2 separate regions of the Homo sapiens genome follow, and region 2 is linked to region 1. The links come from fine-mapping of genetic effects on gene expression. A gene starts in region 1. The other region holds a variant in brackets. All regions are shown on one strand. Distances are from middle to middle. Region 1 holds the start of KLRB1 (killer cell lectin like receptor B1). Region 2 has its middle 11 kb from the start of CLEC2D.

Evidence for each region. PIP is the estimated chance that this variant, and not a neighbour inherited with it, causes the effect. A credible set is the group of variants that fine-mapping cannot tell apart.
Region 2: its variant is the best candidate, but not a certain one, in a credible set for the expression of KLRB1 in whole blood (INTERVAL, PIP 0.76).

The regions. Positions count from the first base shown.
Region 1 is chr12:9,600,934-9,615,528 of GRCh38, forward strand. It overlaps KLRB1 (killer cell lectin like receptor B1), which reads right to left and starts at 6,983. Exons shown (of 6, transcript NM_002258.3): 1 at 6,822-6,983; 2 at 568-666. The coding sequence starts at 6,906.
Region 2 is chr12:9,652,617-9,665,721 of GRCh38, forward strand. It overlaps the pseudogene LOC374443. Among named protein-coding and RNA genes, the nearest start is that of CLEC2D, 11 kb to the right of the region's middle. The variant C/T (reference allele first, on the strand shown) is at 9,163.

The sequences.
Region 1 (14,595 bases):
TCAGTTGAGACAAGAGGAAGGCATCTGTCTCCTGCCTGTCCCTGGGCAATGGAATGTCTCGGTATAAAACCCGATTGTATGCTCCATCTACTGAGATAGGGAAAAACTGCCTTAGGGCTGGAGGTAGGACCTGCGGGCAGCAATACTGCTTTGTAAAGCATTGAGATGTTTATGTGTATGCATATCTAAAAGCACAGCACTTAATCCTTTACATTGTCTATGATGCAAAGACCTTTGTTCACGTGTTTGTCTGCTGACCCTCTCCCCACAATTGTCTTGTGACCCTGACACATCCCCCTCTCGAGAAACACCCACAAATGATCAATAAATACTAAGGGAACTCAGAGGCTGGCGGGATCCTCCATATGCTGAACGCTGGTTCCCCGGGTCCCCTTATTTCTTTCTCTATACTTTGTCTCTGTGTCTTTTTCTTTTCCAAATCTCTCGTCCCACCTTACGAGAAACACCCACAGGTGTGTAGGGGCAACCCACCCCTACAGAGATGCTCTAAGATACGTAATGGAAGTAGAGTAAGTATTATGAAACAGATGATGGTGCCCCACTTACCTGAAACACTCAACCCAGTAACAACCAAGACAAGGAGAATAATCCCAGCACAGCTAAGTTTCAGGGCAAATTGATGCCAAGGTGAACCCTGACAGACATCTGAAAAGTTAAAAAGAAAAACACAAAAACAAACAAACAAACGAAACAAAAAACCTTGGTTAACTCAGTGGAGTACATCTGGCACAAAAATGTACTTGGGATAACATAGGGACAATTAGATTCAGCTTGGGGGATGGGGGCAGGGAACAACCTCTATCCATCATTCTAAAAGTAGAGTCCTGCAAGATGGGTTCTCAGATCCAACAGAGTTTGCTCATTGATAAAATATGAACGCTTATGCATGTGTGTATACAAAGGATTGGTGTAAGAACCAAATGAGATAGATAGAAAGATGTTTTGAAAATTGCCAAGTGCTATACAAAAATTAAGTGCATGTCTTAATGTATGAAGTAAGTCAAAGCATTTTGTCCAAGAAGGAAGACCTTCATTTAGTCAAGATATTTTTTGAGGCTCTCTCTATTTTGTGCCAAGTACCATGTTAGGTGCTGGTGGTATACAGAAATTCTATTCTTGGACATGGAATCCTCTGCTTTGCTGTTGTCTAGAACAATCATCTCCAAGTTGGGTCTAAGCCAACTTGGGATCCCAAGCCATCAAGGGATAAGGTTTTGTGACTGCATACCTTTTTCAATATTATCACTAGTATAACATAACATGCGCTTATGTCTACAACATCGCATAGTCTAAACCAAGTGTCAGATATCTCTGCTTTTCTCTGTAATCACATCAATTACTATATAATGAATCTCCCATGTTCTTCAAAAGTTATGATTATATTGATGAAATGTTATAAATTAATCGCAACTTTATCAATGTATTTTGCTCTGTATCTTTGAAAACATGAATTAATAGAAAAAAAATAAAGAGAGATTTATAAAAATATTTTGGAGAAACACTGGGATATAGCTTCCAAAATTAAATCAACTCTGATAAGGAATTATTCTGGTAGTATATTGCTCAGTTACACTGCTAGAAGTTGTGCCTAAATAGCTCCCCTATCTCTGATTTAATTGTAAGTCTCCCTCTGCTCTCATTTGGTTTTTAACATATTAGATATATTATAATTATAAATTACTTTATAAATTCTATTATTAGAGCTAGGAGCTTTTATGAATAAAGGCTTTCTAATTTATCTGAAGCTATTGATTTATTTGTATTGTCTATTCCTTTTTATTTTTTCTAATATTATTCCATGTAAGTGATTACTTGCTATGAGTTACATGTTAAAAAATTTAGCATCAGATATACTATAATATTATCCTTTAGTCTCTTTATATGTTTCAGAACGGCCATGAAGCCATTTCTACTTTTAATGGTACAGTATCCTTGAGGATTAAGTTGTGCAGTCCAGTTTGCAGACCTGATAATCTCTCACATTAGGATGCTCACACTGATATAAGTGAATCAGCTCTCTCTAAAACGGCCCTGAGGAGATAGAATTTAGTAGCGTTAGATGTGATCAAAGATTATGGGAGGAACCATAATACACTGGGGTCAGGGTTGTAACATATGGATTATCGTCTGGTACTATTTAGGACATGCTGTATCAGTGGAGGGGGGCAGGGAGGAGTAGATACCTAGAGGAGACTCCAAGGCCCCAGGGATATATCTGAATGTGAGGAAACCAAGCTTGGTAATATTGGCCTAGAACTTCTAATGAGAGCTGGTGTGATACAAGAATGTCTACATGCAGTCAATAAGCCCAAGACAGCACTGGCATGGCTTTCCTTCCAGTTTTATATATGTACGTTATTTCACCTTTCTGTCTCTTCTCTTCCCCACCGTTTTCTTCCTTGAAACTCTAAGTTTGTTTGTCTAGTGGAGAAAGCTCTGTATAGTCACTATTTTAAGTGTTAACTTAATTCTATTTATTTATTTATTTATTTTTGAGACGGAGTTTCACTCTTGTTGCCCAGGCTCATGGTGCAATCTCAGCTCACCGCAACCTCCGCCTCCCAGGTTCAAGCAATTCTCTTGCCTCAACCTCCCGAGTAGCTGGGATTACAGGCATGCGCCACCATGCCCGGCTAATTTTGTATTTTTTTTTTTTTTTTTTAGTAGAGACGGGTTTCTCCATGTTGGTCAGGCTGGTCTCGAACTCCCAACCTCAGGTGATCCACCCGCCTCAGCCTCCCAAAGTGCTGGGATTACATACGTGAGCCACCGCACCCAGCCTAATTCTATTACTAACATGAATTTAGTAATTTTCATTACTAAAGGCTAACATTGATTAAGAACAGTCTTTCCGATCTAGCAAATCTGAATGTGAACATGTTATTTTGGAAAATACGTTCAACCTTCATAACCCACAGATTTCCTCATCTGTGAAATGTGGAATATTATCTATGTCATAATATTTTGGAGAGGATTATATGAAACAATTCTTCTAAATGCTGGGCACAGTGTCTGGCACATGGTAACTGTTCAATGAACAGCAGTTCTTTTTTTCTAAAAGTTGTTTTTTTTTTTTAACTATAGGTAAAAGGCAACTTGGTGACTTTTAAAAATCGTTATTCATTCATGCTAAAATGTAAGGAGTTGAGTGGAGTGTACTGTGTCTGGGAGGAATGTACTCCTGTACTGTGTTTCTGTGGCACCACGTGACATTAGAATTAATGAAGTTACAATGAATCACTACAGGGGTCCGGCGGACGTTAGCTATCTGGAAATACCTACCTATGGCTGTTCTCCATTTGAGTTTAAAAAGTATGTGAAATCATCTCATTTCATTATTCTAAACCTTCCAATGGCTTTTCATCAGGCAAATCTGAGTCTGTAGAATGGCTCATATGTCCCTATTTAAGCTGGCGCCCACTTCTGTTGGATGTTATCACTCACATCTCTCTGGTTTTGTTGACTGCCTTAGACACAATCACCATGCTACAGAGTGACCATAGCCTCAACAGTTTAGCCAGAGTCCAATAGTGGTTTCACATTTTGCCCTCACCCCATCTGGCCTCCATACGCTCACTCTCCACGCAGATGCCTCCTACAATACCACAGGCGTGTTTTCATTTCGATGTGTTTGCACTTGTTGGTCACCTTCCTAGAAGGCTTCTCTCTCAGGGGCTTATGTCTTTGTCCCTCACTTCTGTCAGGTTTTGACTCAATGTCATCTTCTCAGGGAGGCCTTCCTTGATTATTCTGTTTGATATGCTACCCTCCCCGAAAGTTAAATCCTATATTCAAATCTTTCTCAATAACATTAACACCGTCTCATCTTTTATACTGACTTAGTTATTTGTTTATTTTATTGATGGTGTGCCTCCATTTTTTTAATTTTTATTTTTTATTATACTTTAAGTTCTAGGGTACATGGGCACAATGTGCAGGTTTGTTACATATGTATACATGTGCCATGTTGGTTTGTTGCACCCGTTAACTCGTCATTTACATTAGGTATTTCTCCTAGTGCTATCCCTTCTCCCTACCCCCACCCCACAACAGGCCCTGGTGTGTGATGTTCCCTGCCCTGTGTCCATGTGTTCTCATTGTTCAATTCCCACTATGAGTGAGAATATGCGGTGTTTGGCTTTCTGTCCTTGTGATAGTTTGCTCAGAATGATGGTTTCCAGCCTCATCCATGTCCCTACAAAGGACATGAAATCATCCTTTTTTATGGCTGCACAGTATTCCATGGTGTATATGTGCCACATTTTCTCAATCCAGTCTATCAATGATGGACATTTGGGTTGGTTCCAAGTCTTTGCTATTGTGAATGCTGCCGCAATAAACATACGTGTGCATGTGTCTTTATAGCAGCATGATTTATTATCCTTTGAGTATATACCCAGTAGTGGGATCACTGGGTCAAATGGTATTTCTAGCTCTAGATCCTTAAGGAATCGCCATACTGTCTTCCACAAGTGTGCCTCTATTTTACTATAAACTCTATGAAGGAAAATAATTTTCTCTATTTTGTTCACTGCTGTATTCACAGCATGCCTGGTGCAGAGTAGGAGCTTATTTTTTAATGAATGAATAAACTCTAGGGGCATTTTTGCAAACACCTTATCCACTTTTCTAACAGACCAAACCCTTGGCCATTTGGCCATAAGCAAGATCGGTTATCACTCACATCTCTCCTTCTGGTTTTGTTGACTGCCTTAGACACAATCACCGTGCTTGCTACAGAGTGACCACAGCCTCAGCAGTTTAGCCAGAGACCAATAGTGGTTTTACTGTCATTCAATATCAGACCAGTGTTCTATAGTCACATATTTTGCTCTGGCTTTATTCTACTCTTATTTTTTCTTCAGGTTTACTCTCAGAATGACATTTTATAGGATAATTATTACAATCCAAGTAGAAAAAATTTCTGCATCCATTGGTTTGGGATCATAGCAACATTTGGGAAGAGTCTCACTACCTCTATATTCATTTTCTGACAAAAGCCCACTTTCCACCTTTTGCTAGATATGAATAGAGGAAAAGAAAGACTTACTCTTTTCTTTAAAAAAAAATGTTACTCAACCAAATCCTCCCTATAGTTATTAGAACCCTCTGATTTCCTCTACTCTTATGTGAAAATTATACTGAAACTTAATTGACGGCTCTAAGACTTTCTTCTTGACTTAAAACTTTGAGAATTCAATAGTTTAAAACTTAAACAGTCTTAAAACAGCACAAGTCAAATGCTTGGCATGACATGGAATGAATATCAGATTGGTAAACAATTGTAATATTATCAATGATAGTAAATTCAGTTAGATATCAGAAAATAATAATGTGTCATAATAATTTCATGCTGATTTTCTGCCTCAGTTTCTAGTTTCTTCCCATCCATCCACAGGCCATGCTATCCATCATGTGTTACCTCACATTGGTGTTCCCCGCTTCTTTCACTCAGAATGCTAACTCTTCAGAGACACAGGAAAGTGCCAGTTTCAACAAATGGTAAGTAGGTTCGTTACTGATATGCTCGAGTATTTTTGTGGCTTGTCTCTTTCTAAGCTGTGATACTTTTCAAACTAGAAACTATCAGGTAGTAATGATATTCAAATCTTTGATCTTGAATATGATTTTTTTTCCAGAAAGTGTTCCCCTCTCTTGAGAGAGTGAAGTATGTTACTCATTAAGCCTACACTTTATATATATATATATAAAATATATAAAATATATGTATAAAAAGTATATATATATATATAAAATATATAAAATATATGTATAAAAAGTATATATATATATATATATATATATATTTTTTTTTTTTTTTTGAGATAGTCTTGCTGTGTCACCCAGGCTGGAGTACAGTGGCACAATTACAGCTCACTGCAGCCTTGATCTCTTGGGCTCAAGCAATCCTCTCACCTCAGCCTCCCGAGTAGCTAGGACCACAGGCACGTGCCCCACACTTGGCTATTTTTTTGTATTGTTTGTAGAGATGAGGTTTTGCCACATTGCCCAGGCTGGCCTTAAACTCCTGGACTCAAGCAAATCACCTTAGCCTACCAAAGTGTTGGGATTACAGGCATGAGCCACTGCAACTGGCCTACACGTTGTATTCTGAAAGGAATATTATGGATGAAAATGCACTGGGACTTAATCATAGTATTGATATTTTGTAGAGGAATTTGGAATAACGTAGGTTGTTATTACAGCAAGTTTGCAATGTGTCTTAAATATTCCTTAGTTCATACATGTAAAATATTTTTCCTTCCTTCCTTCCATCCTTCCTTCCTTCCTCCTTCTCTTTTTCTTTCTTTCCTTTCCTTTCTCTCTCTTTCTTTTTCTTTCTCTCCTTTCTTTCTTTCTTCTTTTCTTTCTCTTTCTTTCCTTTCTTTCTTTCTTTCTTCCTTTCTTTCTTTCTTTCTTTCTTTCTTTCTTTCTTTCTTTCTTTCTTTCTTTTCTTTCTTTCTTTCTTTCTTCCTTCTTTCCATCCCTGTAGAGCAGGGGTAACCAATAGGCAGTGTGCCCAGGGTAGCCTAAAGTGTTCAGAGTCTTTTAACCAAGGCTCAGTAAGACAAGTGATGTTTGCTTTTCATGCTAACTTGATTGAAAAAAATAAATGTATGAGGTTTAAATTTTTTTTCCCAAAGTTGTGATTATCTACAGGCAAGCCATGCAACACCCGTTAAACATTAATATAAAACTACTGCTCATCTTTAAAGCAATGATTTAAAGCCATAAATGTAACAGGAAGATCTAATTCTGGAAGACATACAAATGCCGAAAGGAAAATTAAAGCCACTTACCCCGAGGAAGAGATGAAGGTGAAGAACTTTCTGGGCCTGAGTCTGTGGGTAAGTTTAACTCAGCATATATTGCTTGTTGGTCCATGGCAGACAGAGGAAGGTGGCATTAAACTTGTGTGTAAGAACAAACTCTCAATTCTGTGAGGCAAAATCAGCAAAAGGAAGCTTTCTGCCTGCAGTACTTTGTTGTCTCTCTTTTGTCCCCACCCACATACACTTTTTGTTGGTGGTTATCTCCATAAATTACTGAGACAATCCACTGACTGCATGTTCATTATACCTAGCTATGTAATATCTACTTTCCTTAATTAACTGGCCTGTTGTTTGAGAAAATTCTGGGAGGCTCATTTGTTCTTGTTTTTCTAACCATCCCTTTTGTGTTCCTCTCTCAGGGCCAGGACCAGAGTGAAGCAAATGAGGCATAGCCTGGGGTTCCAATTTAAGGGGCCCCCAACAAAACTCACTAATTAACAGAAATAATATTTAGCACAATTTTGTAAAAGTAAAAATTAATGCAAAAAAGTCCATAATGCTATTCAAAGGCTCTAAAATCTTCCTGAAATATCTGTGCTCCAAAGAAAGTTGTGAAATGTGAAAAATGGAAACATAAATGTGAGAAAGCCCCCTGAATAACACAACAGAAAAAGCAATGTGCTAAAGATCAGTAGCCTACTGTTAGCTTAGCTCTAAAGGCACTCTTGGATATGATAGCATTTTCACATAAGTAAAAGTATTTGGAAACTGCCAGAATTGTAGGAAGTGGAGTATATGGAATTTTTTATCTCTTTGAAAGACTTTCTTTTTTTTTCAAGGTGATTATAGTATGTGTCTACTTTTTTTTTTTTACCTTTTTTTATTATTATTATACTTTAAGTTCACAATGTACAGGTTTGTTACATATGTATACATGTGCCATGTTGGTGTGCTGCACCCGTTAACTTGTCATTTACATTAGGTATATCTCCTAATGCTATCCCTCCCCCCTCCCCCCACCCCACGACAGGCCCCGGTGTGTGGTGTTCCCCTCCCTGTGTCCAAATATTCTCATTGTTCAATTCCAACCTATGAGTGAGAACATGCGGTGTTTGGTTTTCTGTCCTTGCAATAGTTTGCTCAGAATGATGGTTTCCAGCTTCATCCATGTCCCTACAAAGGACATGAACTCATCCTTTTTTATGGCTGCATACTATTCCATGGTGCATATGTGCCATATATTCTTAATCCAGTCTATCATTGATAGACATTTGGGATGGTTCACGAGTCTTTGCTATTGTGAATAGTGCCACAATAAACATATGTGTGCATGTGTCTTTATAGCAGCGTGATTTATAATCCTTTGGGTATATACCCAGTAATGAGATGGCTGGGTCAAATTCTAGTTCTAGTCCCTCGAGGAATCGCCACACTGTCTTCCACAATGGTTGAACTAGTTTAGAGTCCCACCAACAGTGTAAAAGTGTTCCTATTTCTCCACATCCTCTCCAGCACCTGTTTTTTCCTGACTTTTTAATGACTGTCATTCTAACTGGTGTGAGATGGTATCTCATTGTGGTTTAGATTTGCATTTCTCTGATGGCCAGTGATGATGAGCATTTTTTCATGTGTCTGTTGCCTGCATAAATGTTTTCTTTTGAGAAGTGTCTGTTCATATCCTTTGCCCATTTTTTGATGGGGTTGGTTGATTTTTTCTTGTAAATTTATGTAAGTTCTTTGTAGATTCTGGATATTAGCCGTTTGTCAGATGGGTAGATTGTAAAAATTTTCTCCCATTCTGTAGGTTGTCTGTTCACTCTGATGGTAGTTTCTTTTGCTGTGCAGAAGCTCTTTAATTTAGTTAGATCCCATTGGTCAATTTTGGCTTTTGTTGCCATTGTTATTGGTGTTTTAGTCATGAAGTCCTTCCCATGCCTGTTGCCTGAATGGTATTGCCTAGGTTTTCTTCTAGGGTTTTTATGGTTTTAGATCTAACATTTAAGTTTTTAATCCATCTTGAATTAATTTTTTATAAGGTGTAAGGAAGGGATCCAGTTTCAGCTTTCTATATATGGCTAGCCAGTTTTCCCAGCACCATTTATTAAATAGGGAATCCTTTCCCCATTTCTCGTTTTTGTCAGATTTGTCAAAGATCAGATGGTTGTAGATATGTGGTATTATTTCCGGGGGCTCTGTTCTGTTCCATTGGTCTATATCTCTGTTTTGGTACCAGTACCATGTTGTTTTGGTTGCTGTTGCCTTGGAGTATAGTTTGAAGTCAGGTAGCGTGATGCCTCCAGCTTTGTTCTTTTGACTTAGGTTTGTCTTGGCAATGTGGGACCTTTTTTGGTTCCATATGAACTTTAAAGTAGTTTTTTCCAATTCTGTGAAGAAAGTCATTGGTAGCTTGATGGGGATGGCATTGAATCTATAAATTACCTTGGGCAGTATGGCCATATTCACAATACTGATTCTTCCTATCCGTAAGCATAGAATGATCTTCCATTTATTTGTGTCCTCTTTTATTTCATTGAGCAGTGGTTTGTATTTCTCCTTGAAGAGGTCCTTCACCTCTTTCAAAGATTTTCAGGCATAGAACCTTAGAGCAAGACCTTAGGTGGATTGGGTTCCAAGATGGCCAAATAGGAACAGCTCCAGTCTATAGCTCCCAGCGTGAGCGACACAGAAGATTGGTGATTTCTGCATTTCCAACTGAGGTACTGGGTTCATCTCACTGGGGCTTGGCAGACAGTGGGGACAGCCCATGGTGCAGGGTGGGGCATTGCCTCACCAAGGAAGCGCAAGGGATTGGGGAATTCCCTTTCCTAGCCAAGGGAAGCTATGACAGACGGTACCTGGAAAATCAGGACACTCCCACCCTAATACTGCACTTTTCCAATGGTCTTAGCAAATGGCACACCAGGAGATTATATCCCATGCCTGGCTCGGAGGGTCCCATGCCCACAGAGCCTTGCTCACTGCTAGCACATCAGTCTGAGATCAAACTGCAAGGTGGCAGCGAGGCTACGGGAGGGGCATCCACCATTGCTGAGGCTTGAGCAGGTAAACAAAGCTGCCAGGAAGCTCAAACTGGGTGGAGCCCACTGCAGCTCAAGGAGGCCTGCCTGCCTCTGTCGACTCCACCTCTGAGGGCAGGGCATAGCTGAACAAAATGCAGAAGAAACTTCTGCAGACTTAAACATCCCTGTCTGACAGCGTGGGAGAGAGTAGTGGTTCTCTGAGCATGGAGTTTGAGATCTGAGAACAGACAGACTGCCTCCTCTAGTGGGTCCCTGAGCCCGAGTAGCCTAACTGGGAGACACCTCCCAGTAGGAGCTGACTGACACCTCATACAGCCAGGTGTCCCTCTGAGATGAAGCTTCCAGAGGAAGGATCAGGCAGCAACATTTGCCGTACTGCAATATTTGCTGTTCTGCAGTCTCCACTGGTGATACCCAGGCAAACAGGGACTGGAGTGCACCTCCAGCAGCCTCCAGCAGACCTGCAGCTGAGGGTCCTGACTGTAAGAAGGAAAACGAACAAACAGAAAGGACATCCAAACCAAAACACCATCTGTGTGTCACCATCATCAAAGACCAATGGTAGATAAAATCACAAAGATGGGGAGAAACCAGAGCAGAAAAGCCAAAAATTCTAAAAATCAGAGTGCCTCTTCTCCTCAAAAGGAATGCAGCTCCTCACCAGCAACAGAACAAAGCTGCATGGAGAATGACTTTGATGAGTTGAGAGAAGATGGCTTCAGGCGATTGGTAATAACAAACTTCTCCGAGCTAAAGGAGGAGTTCGAACCCATCGCAAAGAAGCTAAAAACCTTGAAAAAAGATTAGACAAATGGCTAACTAGAATAAACAGTGTAGAGAAGACCTTAAACGACCTGATGGAGCTGAAAACCATGGCACGAGAACTACATGATGCATGCACAAGATTCAGTAGCCAATTTGATCAAGTGGAAGAAAGGGTGTCAGGGATTGAAGATCAAATGAATGAAATGAAGCCAGAAGAGAAGTTTAGAGAAAAAAGAGTAAAAAGAAATGAATGAAGCCTCCAAGAAATGTGGGACTATGTGAAAAGACCAAATCTATGTCTGACTGGTGTACCTGAAAGTGATGGGAAGAATGGAACCAAGTTGGAAAACACTCTTCAGGATATTATCCAGAACTTCCCCAACATAGCAAGGCAGGCCAACATTCAAATTCAGGAAATACAGAGAATACCACAAAGATAATCGTCAAGAAGAGCAACTCTAAGACACATAATTTTCAGATTCATCAAAGTTGAAATGAAGGAAAAAATGTTAAGGGCAGCCAGAGAGAAAGGTCAGGTTACCCACAAAGGGAAGCCCATCAGACTAACAGCGGATCTCTCGGCAGAAACTCTACAAGCCAGAAGAGAGTGGGGGCCAATATTCAACATTCTTAAAGAAAAGAATTTCATATCAACCCTGAATTTCATATCCAGCCAAACTAAGCTTCATAAGTGAAGGAGAAATAAAATCCTTTACAGACAAACAAATGCTGAAAGATTTTGTCACCACCAGGCCTGCCTTACAAGAGCTCCTGAAGGAAGCCGTAAACATGGAAAGGAACAACCAGGACCAGCCACTGCAAAAACATGCCAAGTTGTAAAGACCGTTAATGCTAGGAAGAAACTGCATCAACTAATGAGCAAAATAACCAGCTAACATCATAATGACAGGATCAAATTCACACATAACAGTATTAACCTTAAATGTAAATGGGCTAAATGCTCCAATTAAAAGACACAGACTGGCAAATTGGATAAAGAGTCAAGACCCATCATTGTGCTGTGTTCAGGAGATCCATTTACCTGCAGAGACACACATAGGCTCAAAATAAAGGGATGGAGGAAGATCTACCAATCAAATGGAAAACAGAAAAAAGCAAGGGTTGCAATCCTAGTCTCTGATAAAACAGACTTTAAACCAACAAAGATCAAAAGAGACAAAGAAGGCCATTACATAATGGTAAAGCGATCAATTCAACAAGAAGAGCTAACTATCATAAATATATATGCACCCAAAAACAGGAGCACCCAGATTCATAAAGCAAGCCCTTAGAGACCTACAAAGAGACTTAGACTCCCACACAATAATAATGGGAGACTTTAACACCCCACTGTCAACATTAGACAGATCAATGAGACAGAAAGTTAACAAGGATATCCAGGAATTGAACTCAGCTCTGCACCAAGCAGAACTAATAGACATCTACAGAACTCTCCGCCTCAAATAAACAGAATATACATTCTTCTCAGCACCACATCGCACTTATTCCAAAATTGACCACATAGTTGGAAGTAAAGCACTCTTTAGCAAATGTAAAAGAACAGAAATTATAACAAACTGTCTCTCAGACCACAGGGCAAACTAGAACTCAGGATTAAGAAACTCGCTCAACTACATGGAAACTGAACGACCTGCTCCTGAATGACTACTGGGTACACAACGAAATGAAGGCAGAAATAAAGATGTTCTTTGAAACCAAGGAGAACAAAGACACAACATACCGGAATCTCTGGGACACATTTAAAGCAATGTGTAGAGGGAAATTTATAGCACTAAATGCCCACAAGAGAAAGCAGGAAAGATCTAAAACCGACACCCTAACATCACAATTAGAAGAACTAGAGAAGCAAGAGCAAACACATTCAAAAGCTAGCAGAAGGCAAGAAATAACTAAGATCAGAGCAGAACTGAAGGAGATAGAGACACAACAAAACCCTTCAAAAAATCAATGAATCCAGGAGCTGGTTTTTTGAAAAGATCAACAAAATTGATAGACAGCTAGCAAGACTAATAAAGAAGAAAAGAGAGAAGAATCAAATAGACTCAATAAAAAATGATAAAGGGGATATCACCACTGAGCCCACAGAAATACAAACTACCATCAGAGAATACTATAAACACCTCTATGCAAATAAACTAGAAAATCTAGAAGAAATGGATAAATTCCTGGACACATACACCCTCCCAAGACTAAACCAGAAAGAAGTTGAATCCATGAATAGACCAATAACAGGCTCTAAAATTGAGGCAATAATTAATAGCCTACCAACCGAAAAAAGTCCAGGACCAGACAGATTCACAGTCACATTCTACCAGAGGTACAAAGAGGAGCTGGTACCATTCCTCCTGGAACTATTCCAATCAATAGAAAAAGAGAGAATCCTCCCTAACTCATTTCAGGAGGCCAGCATCATCCTGATACCAAAGCCTGGCAGAGACACAACAAAAAAAGAGAATTTTAGACCAATATCCCTGATGAACATCGATGCAAAAATTCTCTATAAAATACTGGCACACCAAATCCAGCAGCACATCAAAAAGCTTATCCACCATGATCAAGTTGGCCTCATCCCTGGGATGCAAGGCTGGTCCAACATACACAAATCGATAAACGTAATCCATCATAGAAACAGAACCAAAGACAAAAACCACATGATTATCTCAATAGATGCAGAAAAGGCCTTTGACAAAATTCAACAGCCCTTCATGCTAAAAACTCTCAATAAACTAGGTATTGATGGGACGTACCTCAAAATAATAAGAGCTATCTATGACAAACCCACAGCCAATATCATACTGAATGGGCAAAAACTGGAAGCATTCCCTTTGAAAACTGGCACAAGACAGGGATGCCCTCTCTCACCACTCCTATTTAACATAGTGTTGGAAGTTCTGGCCAGGGCAATCAGGCAGGAGAAAGAAATAAAAGGTATTCAATTAGGAAAAGAGGAAGTCAAATTGTACTGGTTTGCAGATGACATGATTGTATATTTAGAAAAGCCCATTGTCTCAGCCCAAAATCTCCTTAAGCTGATAAGCAACTTCAGCAAAGTCTCAGCATACAAAATCAATGTGCAAAAATCACAAGCATTCCTATACACCAATAACAGACAAACAGAGAGCCAAATCATGAGTGAACTCCCATTCACAATTACTTCAAAGAGAATAAAATACCTAGGAATCTAACCTACAAGGAATGTGAAGGACCTCTTCAAGGAGAACTACAAACCACTGCTCAACGAAATAAAAGAGGACACAAACAAATGGAAGAACATTCCATGCTCATGGATAGGAATAATCAATATCGTGAAAATGGCCATACTGACCAAGGTAATTTACAGATTCAGTGCCATCCCCATCAAGCTACCAATGACTTTCTTCACAAAATTGGAAAAAACTACTTTAAAGTTCATATGGAACCAAAAAAGAGCCCACATTGCCAAGTCAATCCTAAGCCAAAAGAATGAAGCTGGAGGCATCACGCTACCCGACTTCAAACTGTACTACAAGACTCCAGTAACCAAAATAACATGGTACTGGTACCAAAAAAGAGCCCTCATTGCCAAGACAGTCCTAAGGCAAAAGAACAAAGCTGTGGATGAATAAGTGGTTTTTACTATCACTTTTGCCCACCTTTTCTTCATATCAGGTTAAAAAATGAACAAATAAAATTTACAGACACAACTAATGGCATTTTTCCCTTTACTTTTTACCAGAGGTAACATCTAATCTGAAGTTAGTGCAGAGTATTTGCAGGCATGTTCTGTCTGCTTTTATTATAAATATTTATTGCTAGATGAGACCTATTTCATGTAATTTTTTTCTTTTCATGGCATTCAAAATCCAAGCTCCTTGACCACTTGTTTTAGAATGTTATTTGCTTCAGAGAAACTCTCTTACTTTTACCACCATCCGGAACACCACAACCATCTTTGCAAAATCAGCAAGAATTTACCACTTCCTTTTTTTCTGAAG
Region 2 (13,105 bases), 51 kb after region 1:
CATACTGCAATGTTTATCAGTATTGCACTGAATCTCTAAACCTGTTTGGGTATAATTGACATCCAGCAATATTGCATATTCCAATCTATGAATATCTTATATCTCTCTGTTGATTCAAGTCTGCTTTGATTTCTTTGTCCCTTTGGTTTCCAGCTTTCATCATACTGATCCTAAACATATTTTGATATATTTATTTGATATCTTTCATGTTATTATAAATGATACTGTTTTTATATTTAAATTTCCACTTCATAATTATGAATATGGAAATATAAGTGATTTTTATATATGAACATAGGTAATCCTGTAGCTTTGCCAAATTCATTTATTCTCATAGCCATTTGGTAGATTCCTTAGAATTTTACATGCAGACAACTGTGTTGTCTGTGAATAGCAATGCTTTTATTTCTTTCCAATCTGTATGACATTTATTTCTTTTTTCTTGCCTTTTTGCCCCTAATAGGACATCCAGTAAAATGTTAAATTGGATTGGTGAGAGAGATCAGACATCCTTGCCTTGTTCTATGTCACTGGGGGAAAGCATTTATTCTTTCATCGTTAAGGTTGTTGCTAGTTGTAGTTTTTCTGTAGATGCCCTTTATCAGGTTGAAGAAAGTTCTTCAATTTCTAATTTGTTGAGTCTTACTATCGTGGATGAATATTAAGCTTTTCACATCCTCTTGCTGCATTTATTCAGATGCTCATATGTTGTCCCTTGTCTCATTCTGTCAATATGGTGAATTACATTGATTTATTTTCTGCTTCCCTTGTTGCTTCTAACCAGCTGCTTTACTATGGGGCTAAATCTGGATTGTGTATGTTTCTTTTTCATCCCAATTTCTACTCTTTTTCCAGTAACTGGAAGATTCCCTGGGGGTGGGGAGAATTCGATTTTTATCTCTAGCCCTCTTTGGGCCATTATTCTCATTTATGAACCAAGCCCTTTTGTGAAAGGAGTTGGCAGTAGGAGAATTGAAGTACATCTGATCTTAGTGTTGATTCTATGATAAATTTTTTCTCCCTACGATATTCCTGAGATTGAGATTCTGATGTTTCTATTTTACAGATAAAACTCTGCAAAGACAATGTCTAGCACTTATATCTCCAGTAACTCCTGTCAAGGTTTATTGTTGCTTGTTCATCATTGCAGTCCTGACTACAAGTGTGATTGCACTTTCTATTGTTTTGTCAGGTAAGTTACTTGTTCTCCAAACTGTACAATATTCTCCATATGTTTTTGTTGTCAATAAATATTTATTAAGCTCCATTATGTGCCTGTCACTGTGTGAAATGCTTGAATTACATCAGCAAACAAAATACACACAAAAGAATTCCTGCCCTTTGGAACTTATATTCCAGCAGAAAAACACAAGTAAAAATAAATAAGGGTGGAGGTATAACAGGTTGCAATAGGTTGACAAAACTAAGCCTTCTTAGGAAGGTGACATTTCAGCAACCTTTTGAAAGAGATGGAGGAACCATGTGAAGGAACCTATTCCAGGCAGAGAACAAGTAGACCAAAGCCTGAAGGAGGACTCTTCCTGGCTTATTTGAGGAAGAGCAAGGAGGCTGCTGTAGGTGAAGCAAAGTGAAGATGGAGAAGAAGAGTGATACCATGGGGAATCAGGAACGGAGGAACCTTGAGGGTCAGTTAAAGACTTTGGCTTTGACCTTCAGTGCAATAGGGAGACTAGATGAGGGAAGTTGTACGAGAGGAATGTCTTGATGTGACTTTCATTGTAGAATAATCATTTAATTGCTATATTGAGACTAGGTAGGGGAGGGTGGTCAGACTCTGGATATTTTGAAAGCTGAGCCAACAGTATTTTATGTCAAATTGGATAAAACGTCTCAGAGGAATGTCAAAGGTAAGCCTGTCTTCTTTTGAGCCTTGGCAAGAATGCATTTGCCGTCCATTGATATGAGAAAGGCTATGGGTATAGGAATTCCGCTTACGGAACTATTTCCTGACAAGTTCCTCTCAGAATTGTCATTTTTTATTAAAAATAAAGTAAGATCTCTACTTGAAATGTTTTCAGGCAAATCACCTGGCCTTAAGAGCTGGTATCTTCTACTTAAGCAGATTGAGAATGCACGAAAGTACAGAGAACTGTATACATAAAAAAATCATCTCTTGTATAGAGGTAATAGGTCCTCAGCATTGCTTTGTCAAGAGAAAGAAGGGCTAATATGAGGGAGGATATGGAAAAATCATCCGTATGACCCTGTGAAAGTACAGTACTATGGAAGTCGATGCTATAGAAATTGATTTCCTTGAAACTGTTAGTGTCAGTGTAAATTTCAGAAAGTCAAGGGTGCAGATACCCAGCTGGAAACCACCGGACTGACGATTGTTGTGCTTAGGATAAGGCACTTTGTGATGAGTTAGGAAAACAACAATCAGATATGTACACTTCAAAATTGACCTCAGGAAGGTAAGCAGAAAAATAGATAAAATGGGTGAGAAAATTTCTTTATTATGTTTCATTGTGATTGTCTCACTTTTAGCAAGAAAGGAAAAGCCAGTGGTAGAGTCATCTAAATACGCTGCTTGCCCAAAAAGCTGAATTAGATTTAGGAGTAAATGTTTTTATTTTTCTGAAGGCATAAGAAATTAGACATTGAGTCAAACGTTCTGTGTCTCATTAGAAGCCAGCCTTGCTCAGTTTGCAACTATGGAGGAACTGGTAAGAGATATTTTTGGATCATGTTTTCTGTTAAATACTTAGCCCCCTGAGGCAGGTCGGCTACATAGGGTTAAAGCTGAAATACTAAGAAGGATCCCATTCCAGGGGCATGAGATGTGTTTTCATGTCTAACATTTGTTGAGGGTGTGTTCTCTGCCTGGAACCCTGTGAGACATTTTAGATATATTTCCCCATGTAATGCTCATGGTGAGCTGGTAAGATGAGATGTATTGTTCTCATTCTATTAAGAAGTAAGGTAATTATATAATTTGTCATCTAGATTAAGACATATAGGGCATTAAAAGTGATCATTAATACATTGGTGGAATGACAAGCATAAACTGAGAATTTCCCAATGAAACTGGGATTTATGCTCACTTTAAATAAAGTAATTTAGGATCAGAGACGTTAAATGACTTAAACTGAGAACTGGGAATTAGTCTCACTCCAGAATTTATGCTGCTTAATTATACCACGCTGCCAGTGAAAAAGAGAAGGGATAGGGAAGAGAGACTCCAGAGTAATATGAAAGAAAGGGGCTCATGGTGTTAGTTTCTGTTTTATTATAGAATTTCCTGAAAAGATACAAAGGCCCTTCTGACCATTGGATTGGCCTTAGAAGAGAATCATCCCATCGCATTTGGAAATGGACAGACAACATGGAATATAATAACATGTATGTTTTGAGACTTCTCATCTTTTGCTGTGTTTATGTATGGTTATGTGTGTGAGTTGTGTTTATGAGATAAGAAATGTAGTATCATGGAAAACTTACTGCAATATGAGGTAAGAAATCTAAACCCTTTTTATGCTCTTCAGTTGGTTAGCTGTGTCTTTGGGAAAGCTTTACCTGTGATTTCAGTTGAAGTCTTTAATGTGACAGTGACATTTCTCACAATTTTACACTTTCATCCACTGATTTAAAACTGCTGAAATCCCTACTTATAGCTGATGTGCAACAAAGGTTCTACAATCATAGGAAGCCACTGAGGAGCTGATATCCACAAGGCTGTTAAGCCCACTCTTGCAGGTGTTGCATCCATTTACAATAGGAAAGCATCCAGGGAACTCATGGGAATCTCTCCCTCCTAAAGCTTTATCACCAGAAGGAAACTAGTAACAGTTCCTTGGACTGTGAACATTTCAAAGGGGTATTTTGAATATAATCATTACATTGCAGCAGATAAAATGTAGGAACCCAGTCATATCCATTAATCAAAGCTAAGCCCTTTCAGGAATTTACTAGTTTTTTTTTTTTTTTTAGTTTTCACACATTTACAAAACAATTTGGGAGGAGGCTGGAAATCATCTTGACTGAAGACCACCAATGGCAGCAGTTCATTTGGGTACAGCAGCAAGCATCAGTTAAATACCTATCAACATAGCTGGGCTTGGTATGGATGAATGATAAGCTTGTGATTTTCAAGCAAGGACCTTGAGGACATAAAGGACACTAAATACAGAAATGGTTTATATTACTATGAAGCAATATTAATGACAGACTTTTGCTTTTCTCTTATTCACATTGAAATATGGAGGGGTTGCAGAAGATGATGGGGAGGAACAAATGCAGGTGTCTAACTTACAAATATTTAATATTTTTGTGTTTGGATTTAGGCTTGCTATCAGAGGAAGTGGAGAATGTGCCTTCCTGAATGACAATGGAGTCAACAGTGGCAGAATCTACATGAACAGAAAATGGATTTGTAGCAAGCCAAACAATTATGTCTACAGTTGCCAGTTATGTCCCCACTGGGATACTACCTAGTAGAGCTGTGAGAAGAGGGCCACCATCCTCCAGACTCCAGAATGGTGGAATCAGCAGCAGCTTCCACCATGCCCCTGGAAAAACTGCAAGTAACAGACCTGCACATGTATCCCCTACATCTAAAATAAAAGTTGGAAAAAATGGAACTTTGATGTTAAGATGCACTGATACAAAACTTAAATTTTGGTCTCCTACATTAAAACAATATGAGTCTCTTAAAATATTGATTTGTTCTTAGTAAGATTACAAGAGGCTTTGATTTTTAATTCTGCAATGTTTCCTTAACAGCCATTCTGAATTACAAACTAATTCCTATTTCTGCCACATTCCTTCCTGAGAACTGTCTAGTCCTGGTTTGGGATTTATCTTAAAGGTCTAGAAAGGCAACATTTTACTTCAGCAAAACTTGATTCTATATTGTTGTTTTTTCTTAATGTGTCAAAATTGTTTTGTTACTAGGATTTCCTATGTTGTTATTAAATGTATTCCCCTGATCAAGGTCACTGGCCTAGAAAACAAAGATTCTGTGTTTTACCAAGATAATTCCCAGTGCTTCATGGTGTCTTTATTAGGCTTTGACTGCTTAGGGAAACTGAGCCTTAAAAGGGTAAAAGTTTTTCCATCCATGTAACTTTCTGAGGTCTTTAGGTTGTCACTCTGATTAAATGAGTAGTATTCTTAGCAGTGACTTATTATCTGTTGAAGGAAGTATTTTAAGCTTTTTGACATCTTTGGCAGGTTTCTCTAGAATCCAAATCCTAAATTAAGCCTTTTGGCCTAAAAATGACTGGGATTTTTCCAGGTGGACCCCCTAGATATGCTCCTCCAAAGGCTTGTCTTTCTTGTAGAGTTATTAAATGATTAGGCTTATTTGGCAAATACTGCTAGAAGCATTGTCAAATAAGAAATGGTGTTTTACCTTTCTTTAAGCTGTGTTTGTGTAAGTTCATCATTTATAGAAATGTGAAATTTTATGAGATTCCTAAGATACTGACATGCTGAGATACCTGTAATAATTGCAATTTTTATGTTGGATGATTGTATGCCACAGAAGCACTTAAATTTCCTGGTTAATTGGTAACGTTAATCAGATCTTTACCTATGGCTGTTCTGGGTTTTTGTCATTCACAGTTATTATTTTAATTTCTTCTTTGGAAGCGTTCGCAATCAGCTATAGTCCAAAATTGCTAATTAAGATCAAGCAAAACAAAATTAATTACGTAAAATTAATTTATAAGGATGTTTTTATGACGTAAATGTTTTATTTTCCAGAGCCAAGGAAATTTTCTGTCACAAGCTATCTACCGTTTGCAATAATTTGATAAATAATCCTTTGTGAACAAATATGGAAGCATTTGCTTTTTCTCTCTACTTGATTCCTTCAAAATTCAGAAACTATTTGTGGATATTTTTAGTTTTATTTATACAACTTCAGTAAAAATCCACTCTCTCTTTATAAGCAGGATCCAGTTGGAAACATTATTTATATTGCTAAGGTTTGGCTTGAAATGTCATATTTCAGAATGTGCATAGAGGCCAGGGGTGGTGGATCACACCTGTAATCCCAGCATGTTGGCAGGCTGAGGTGGGTGGATCACTTGAGGCCAGGAGTTTGAGATCAGCCTGGTCAAAATGGTGAAACCTCATCTCTTCTAAAAACACAAAATTAGCCAGGCATCGTGGCACACGCCTGTAGTCCCAGCTACTCGAGAGGCTGAGGCATGAGAATTGCTTGAACCCAGGAGGTGGAGGTTGCAGTGAGTGGAAATCCCACCACTGCACTCCAGCCTGGGCGACAGCATGACACTGTGTCTCAGAAAAAAAAAAAAAGTGCGTAAAATGCCTTGCTTCATGAGTTCCCAGCTTTACAGGGAATGAGTAAAAATTGTCACTTTCTGGCAGGTTCAAGAACCTTATTATAAGCAAAATCCAAAGGCTGCTTTGGTTTGGTTTCCTAGCCTCAAGAGGTTCTAAAATCTAAGATCTCCTACATCATCAACGGGAGAGAAAAATTATGCTTCTAAGGAAAGCAAAGTTACACCTGTTTTTAGATTTTAACCCTGTACATTGTCTTCAAGTCCTTGTTATCTGCCTGTGGACTGAACTAGATCCTGAATTCTCCTAAGTTCCTCCAATATTAGGTTATAACAGTCCTGATGGAGTCCCCCAACCCTCTTGCCTCGATCCTGACTAGGGATGCTCCAGGGACATTCAGGTGACTTCCCCTTCTTAAAAATCTGACCAGCTAGGGACATTAGATACCAGAATTGGGAACAAACTAGATCCATAAGATACTATGGTCAGTAATGAGATCTTATTGGTCAGTGACTTTTTTTTTTTTTTTAAATGGAGTCTCACTCTGTCACCCAGAGTGGAGTGCAGTGGCATGATCTCAGCTCGCTACAACCTCCCATCTCCCGAGTTCAAGTGATTCTCATGCCTCAGCCCCTCAATTAGCTGGGGTTACAGGCATGTGCCACCACACCTGGCTAATTTTTGTATTTTTAGTAGAGATTGGGTTTTGCCGTGTGGGCCAGACTGGCCTCTGGCCTCGAACTCCTGACCTCAGGTGATCCACCTGCCTCGGCCTCCCAAAGTGTTGAGATTACAGGCATGAGCCACTGCACCTGGCCTGCTCAGTGACTTCTAACATTGCTGCTGTACCTGGGTAAATACTTCCAGTCATATTTAAGCGGGCTTGGAGTTGGCAAAATCTCTGAGAGAGACATCTTCGGAAAGCCTCCATGCTGGACTTAGTGGATAAAGTTTCCAATGTCCAGATATTTTCAGCTGGTTTCTCCTTGGTATAGGATTTCTTCTGCATTCTACCCTGCACATCTTAATGATAACCCTCATATTTTGGCTAAGCATTTGACTCCCCTTTAGAATTGTTCTAACTTGTTTTTAACAGATGTCTACAAGAGATTCCCACCAGGATCCTGCCCATGCAATCTTTGAGACTTTAAACTCACTCCAGCTGGAAATAGGAACCAACTTAACCCAAGAGACTTTGGTTCACATTTAACCAGTACTTTCCTGAATGCCTCTCCTAAGTAAATGGCTCTAGTTTCTCTATTGGCCACTGCACTGCCACTAGGATTCCTGCAAGGGATCCGATGGGCCCAGAGCAGGTAGCCAACCACTTCTCTGTTGGATGGAATGCAATGCTGTTTGCCAGCATGTTTGAGCCAGTCCTTCAAGATGGATTCTGAGTGACTAACTGGACCTAAATTTAAATAGCACAAAGCAGCCATTTGCTAACTAGATTTCATACAAATGCTCTGAGTTCCTGGAAAACCCACACTCCTTAACTTTGGGACTTTCAAGACTCACCTAAATCAATCAATTAAAGCTCACTTGTGTCAGCTAATCAGGGATCAGCTGTATTGACTAATGAAAACTAAGCGAGTTTCAAATTTTAACCATTTATTTGTGTAGAAGACTTGATTGGGAGCCTGGGTATGAATACTTGCTATAAAATCTGAGCATTCCCTTTGTTCTCTGGAGCAAACAATGTTAAGTTGTTAACTCTCTGTACCTTTCTCTAGAACTGGATGGAAACAACTCCATCTGAAATGCAGCCCTAATACCAGGGAACTCCTACAGTAAAGCGCTAAACAACTTTATTACTCTAACCAACGTTTATGTCCCTAATCAGCAAGAAGTAGTTAGAATGGTCATCATCCCTTTCCCTCAAGATTGAGGAATGGACATAAAAAGGAGGGGATTTGTAACTGCTCCAGACTGATCTGTTGTCAGAAAGGGGCTCTTGAACCAGACCATGAAAGAGGGTTCTTGGATCTCCTGCAGGAAGGAATTCAAGGAGAGTCACAGAGTGTAGAGAGAATAGACAGTTTATTGAAAGCTACTCAGTTACAGAGTAGGGCATCCTCCAAAAGCAGGAGGAGGAATGTGCTGTCTTTGTTTTAAACTCTTCTTTTATAGGGGTTTAATCTATGTAAAACCTAAGCTATGTCTACATGTGGGTAGGCTGTCAGTGTGACAAAATTTAGTATTTTGTTGATATAAAGAAACTTATCCTTGTCATCTTAGTGCATAAGTACATCAAAGTATGACTTTAGCTACCTTAAAAGCATGTATTGTTATGTGATATTGGGACATCTGGACATTCTGCTGTCGTAGGAGTTTGTCCTTGCAGCATTACTAAATCGCTTCCTTAGCTGTAAACATCTTATAATCGTAGGTCATAACTGTCAAGGAAGTGCCTTGCTAGTTTTTAGATGGAGTTGATTTTAAAATAGTGTCACTCTGGCTTTCCTATGCTCCTGCTTTCCTAACAAATCTGGTTCAACTTTTTTTTTTTTTATTCAACATAATCTTTTTTTTCCATGCTACCTCATTTACAGAGTGCTTCCTATAGATATGGTTGGTCTGTATGTTTCATTTTTCAGCTTTGATTCTTATTTTTTTGAATCACACATGCTTTATGGGGGCTTCCACTACCATGAGCCATATTTTCTGTATTACCAGCAAGATGTTTGGGTTTGTTTTTTGTTTTCTTTATATTTCAAATTTTATTTTAGATTTAGGAAGTACGTGTGCAGGTTTGTTAACATGGGTGTATTGCATGACGCTGATCTTACAATACCAATGATCCCATCACTCAGGTAGTGAGCATAATATCCAATAGGTAGTTTTTCAGAACTTGCCTTATCTTCCCTCTCTCCCTGCTCTCTTAATTCGAAG[C/T]CTATTTTTCCTATCTTTATGTCCACATGTTTCCAGCATTTAGCTCCCACTTATACGTGAGAGTATGTGGTATTTGTTTTTCTGTGTCTGCATTAATTTACTTAGGATGATGGCTTCCAGCTGCATCTTTTGTTGCAAAGGACATGACTTTGTTCTTTTTTATGACTGTGTAGTATTCCATGGTGTATATGTACCACATTTTCTTTATCCAGAACACTGTTGATAGGCATCTACATTGATTCCATGTCTTGGCTATTGTGAATAGTGCAGCAATAAACATGCATGGTTCAACTTTTATGGTAACAAAGCTGTGAGTTGTTCTTCAGTTGTCATGGACCCTCACTCAGGTCATGTAACCTGAGCATGGACAGGTGAAACAAGTGTGCAACCACAAGGGAAACCTAATCATTCAGACTGAGGTACAGGGACCGAATTAAGAGGTGGACACAGGATGGCAGGATCCAGGATCCAACTGGATAGAACTCAGGCATCACTTCATGGCAGGATCCAGTCAGATCTTGCCTCCCAGCATCACCTCATTGCAAGATCCAATCAGATTATTCCTCACTACCCTATGCTTATAAAACCTGACCCACCTCCCAGCTTGGCGAGGTACTACTTTGGGAGCTTTGTCCAGTGTTCTCTTTACTTTCTGTAAGAACAAAATCTCCTTGCTAAATCCACCTTGTCGGTGGTCATTGGGTTGATACCTGCCAAGTGACTGAACCCACCTGTTGTGTGGGTAACATTTAGAACATATTTTCCATTTCTTTATTTTCCTTGACTGTCTGCATTGGTGTCTGTGCACCAGATAAAACAGCTTCCTTTCCAGTCTTCACAGACAGGTCTCAGATAGGACAACACCTTTACCAATCAGTCCAGACAGAGGTTCTGGGTGCCACTTAAACCTTCCTGGTAGTTGAAACCACAATGTTTGTTCTTAATGGTCCTCAGGCATCTAGAGTATGCCAGGCCCTTCCAGTGCTCTCAGATACATGAGATAAAATCCAGTTCCTCAGGTAGCAGCCAGAAAAGCTGGGGTGCTAGTTATTTGGTCTGTCTCCTTTGCTTTTCAGAGAGAAGCTGGAAGCCAGGCTTTATCACTGCACTGAGCCAAAGTGGGGAGCAGGGGGAAGTGCCCACATGCTTATTAAAAACCGCTCTGAAAATATTTGAAGTAACAGGGCTATAACAATTATTATTTTAAAAGCAACTGCTGTTTTGGTTTGTGTAGCCCCAGAGGTTTAGCAGATGCTGGGCCCTGTCAGCTCACCAAAACAGGGAAATTAGAAACCAGTCTATCTGGTAGTATCTAGAGAAGTTGTGATACCAGATAGGTGGTCCAAACCCTTCACTCCTCAGGGATAGACTAAGAGATGGGAGTTCCTTCCCGATCATATGGCATTGTATTAGGGTTGGGGGTTATGATCACAGTGTGTGCAAGTTTTTTCCTATCAGTTTTGATGTGGATAGTTTCACACTCACCTAGGGTACAGGAGTGGCTCAGTCAGTTTCTGGATTTCCAATGATGGGAATTTGCCTCTGTGTTGCTGTTGAATTGATGGTGGGGAAGGAGAGTTTAGGGCCTTCTATTCTGCCATCTGTGACTCTGACAGTTTCTTTTAATGTTAAACTATCATACAGTCTAGTTACTACATTTGTAGACATTTCTCTCGCACAAATGACAACTTATATTTACACAAAAGCCTGTATATAAAATGTGCATAACAGCTTTATTCATAATAGTCAAAACTTGTAAACAACTGTATGTCTCACAATGGGTGAAAAATTAAGTAAATTCTGTTATAGGCATACAGTGGATTACTACTCAGCAATAAAAAGGAATGGGCTATTGATACATATAACAACTTCCTTGAATCTCAAAGTACTTAGGCTAAGTAAGAAAAGCCAATTACTGAAGATCGCATTCTGTGTGATTTAATTTACGTAACATTATTGAAATGACAAAATGGTATAGATAGAGAATGAGGGTTATGGATGGGTGAGTGGAGAAGAAGGGGCAGTATGGAGAAAGGGTGGTGTGGCTCTCCGTCGTGATGGAAGAGTTTCGTTTCCTCATTGTATCAATGGCATTATCTTAGTCGTGATATTATAGTGTAGTTTTTTAGATGTTACCATTGGGAGAAACTGAGTAAAGAAGATGTGGGATCTTTCTTTAGTATTTCTTAGAACTGCATGTGAATCTACAACTAGCTCAAAATAAAAAGTTTAATTATAAAATAAAAGCTACATGAAATGAAGCAAAAAATAATTCACCCTTGTCACGCACACAGAGTCAGAGACTGTAACATAATTTGCAGGATCTAGAGCAGAATACAAATGTAAAACATCTTGTTAAAAAATTATTAATAATTTTGAGACATTGATAAAGCATTAAGCCGCCTGTGGGGCCCTTTAAGCATGATAAACTGTGCTACCACACAGATTGCACATTCACGTATCTGGCCCTGCAAATGGAATGATTTTTGCCCATGATCAATTCACCATGGCCTCTTTGGGCTCAGTGAATTTGCTTCTTCAGGAGGGTAATTTTCTCTTCTTTCTCTGCTAAGCTGTTTAACAGTAGTTGCCCTGCCTAATGGGCTTCATCCATCCATTTCTCTCAGATTATTTTCATGATGCACTAGGATGAAGCACACCCTTTCTCCTAGTCTTGAGGAAACGTCGATATTCAGAATATTTAAACGCAGGCACTGACCAATCAGAAGAGTTTCTGGCCAACGTTCCACACTTGAGGGAAATGACATTATCTGAGCCCTGAAGAAAAACGTTGTAGATATTCTCCAGATCAAAGCATCGACAGGAAGATTTTAGATGTTGAAGTTCGTAATATTTCCTAAAGCAGGTATGAATTACTAGTAACTTAATAGGTATATTAACTGATGAAGTTTTCATTTCTCAGAACAAACCAGTCAAGGAAGGTGCTATTATACTCCTTTTATTCATATAGATCTTGAGGCTGAGACAGTTTAATCAATATGCTATAATTATTGTGTAATAATAAATTACCATAAACTAGGGGTGCTATGATCTCAATATTTGTATCTCCCACTCCCAAATTCACATGTTGAAATCCTGACTCCCAAGGTGATGGCATTAGGAGATGAAACCTTTGTGAGGTCATTAAGTCATGAGGGTAGAATACCGATGAATGGGATTAGTGCCCTTACAAAAGGGGCCCACCAAAGCTGCCTTGTTCCTTCTACTATGTGAGGACACATCTAGAAGTTACCATCAATGAACCAGAAAGTGGGCCCTTACCAGGCACCAAATCTGCCAGCACTCTGATCTTGGACTTCCAGCCTCCTGAACTGTGAGAAATAAATTTCTGTTGTTTATAAGTTACCCATTTTATGGTATTTTGTTACAGGCACATGAACTAAGACAAGTGGATTAAAAACAACACAAATTATTATTTTACTGTCTAGAAATGAGAGGTTCAAAATGGCTAAAGTCAGGGTGCCACTGATAGGGCTGCATTTCTTTTGGAGGCTCTAGGGAAGAAGCCGTTTCCTTGCCTTTTTCAGCTTCCAGAGGCCACCTGCATTCCTTAGCTTATGGTCCCTTGCTACAGCTTTAAAGCCAGCAGCACAGCACCTTCAAATCTCTCTCTGACAGTGACATTCCTGCCTTCCCCTAATAAAGACCCATGTGATTAGATTAGGCCCACCTGGATTATCCAAAATAATCCCTCTGTCTTTAGACCCTTAACCATATGTGCAAAATGTCTTTTGTCATGTAAAATAACATCCTTACCTCAAGGTTTTGGGAATTAGCTTATTAATGTCTTTAGGGGGTCATTATTCTGCTTTCCACATACATTTAAAATTAACTATCAGGCTACAAAAGTCATATATGAATTGAGCTTGTTTTGCCCCAAAGGCTGTGTTCTTTTTTTATTTTTTTTATTTTTATTTTTTGA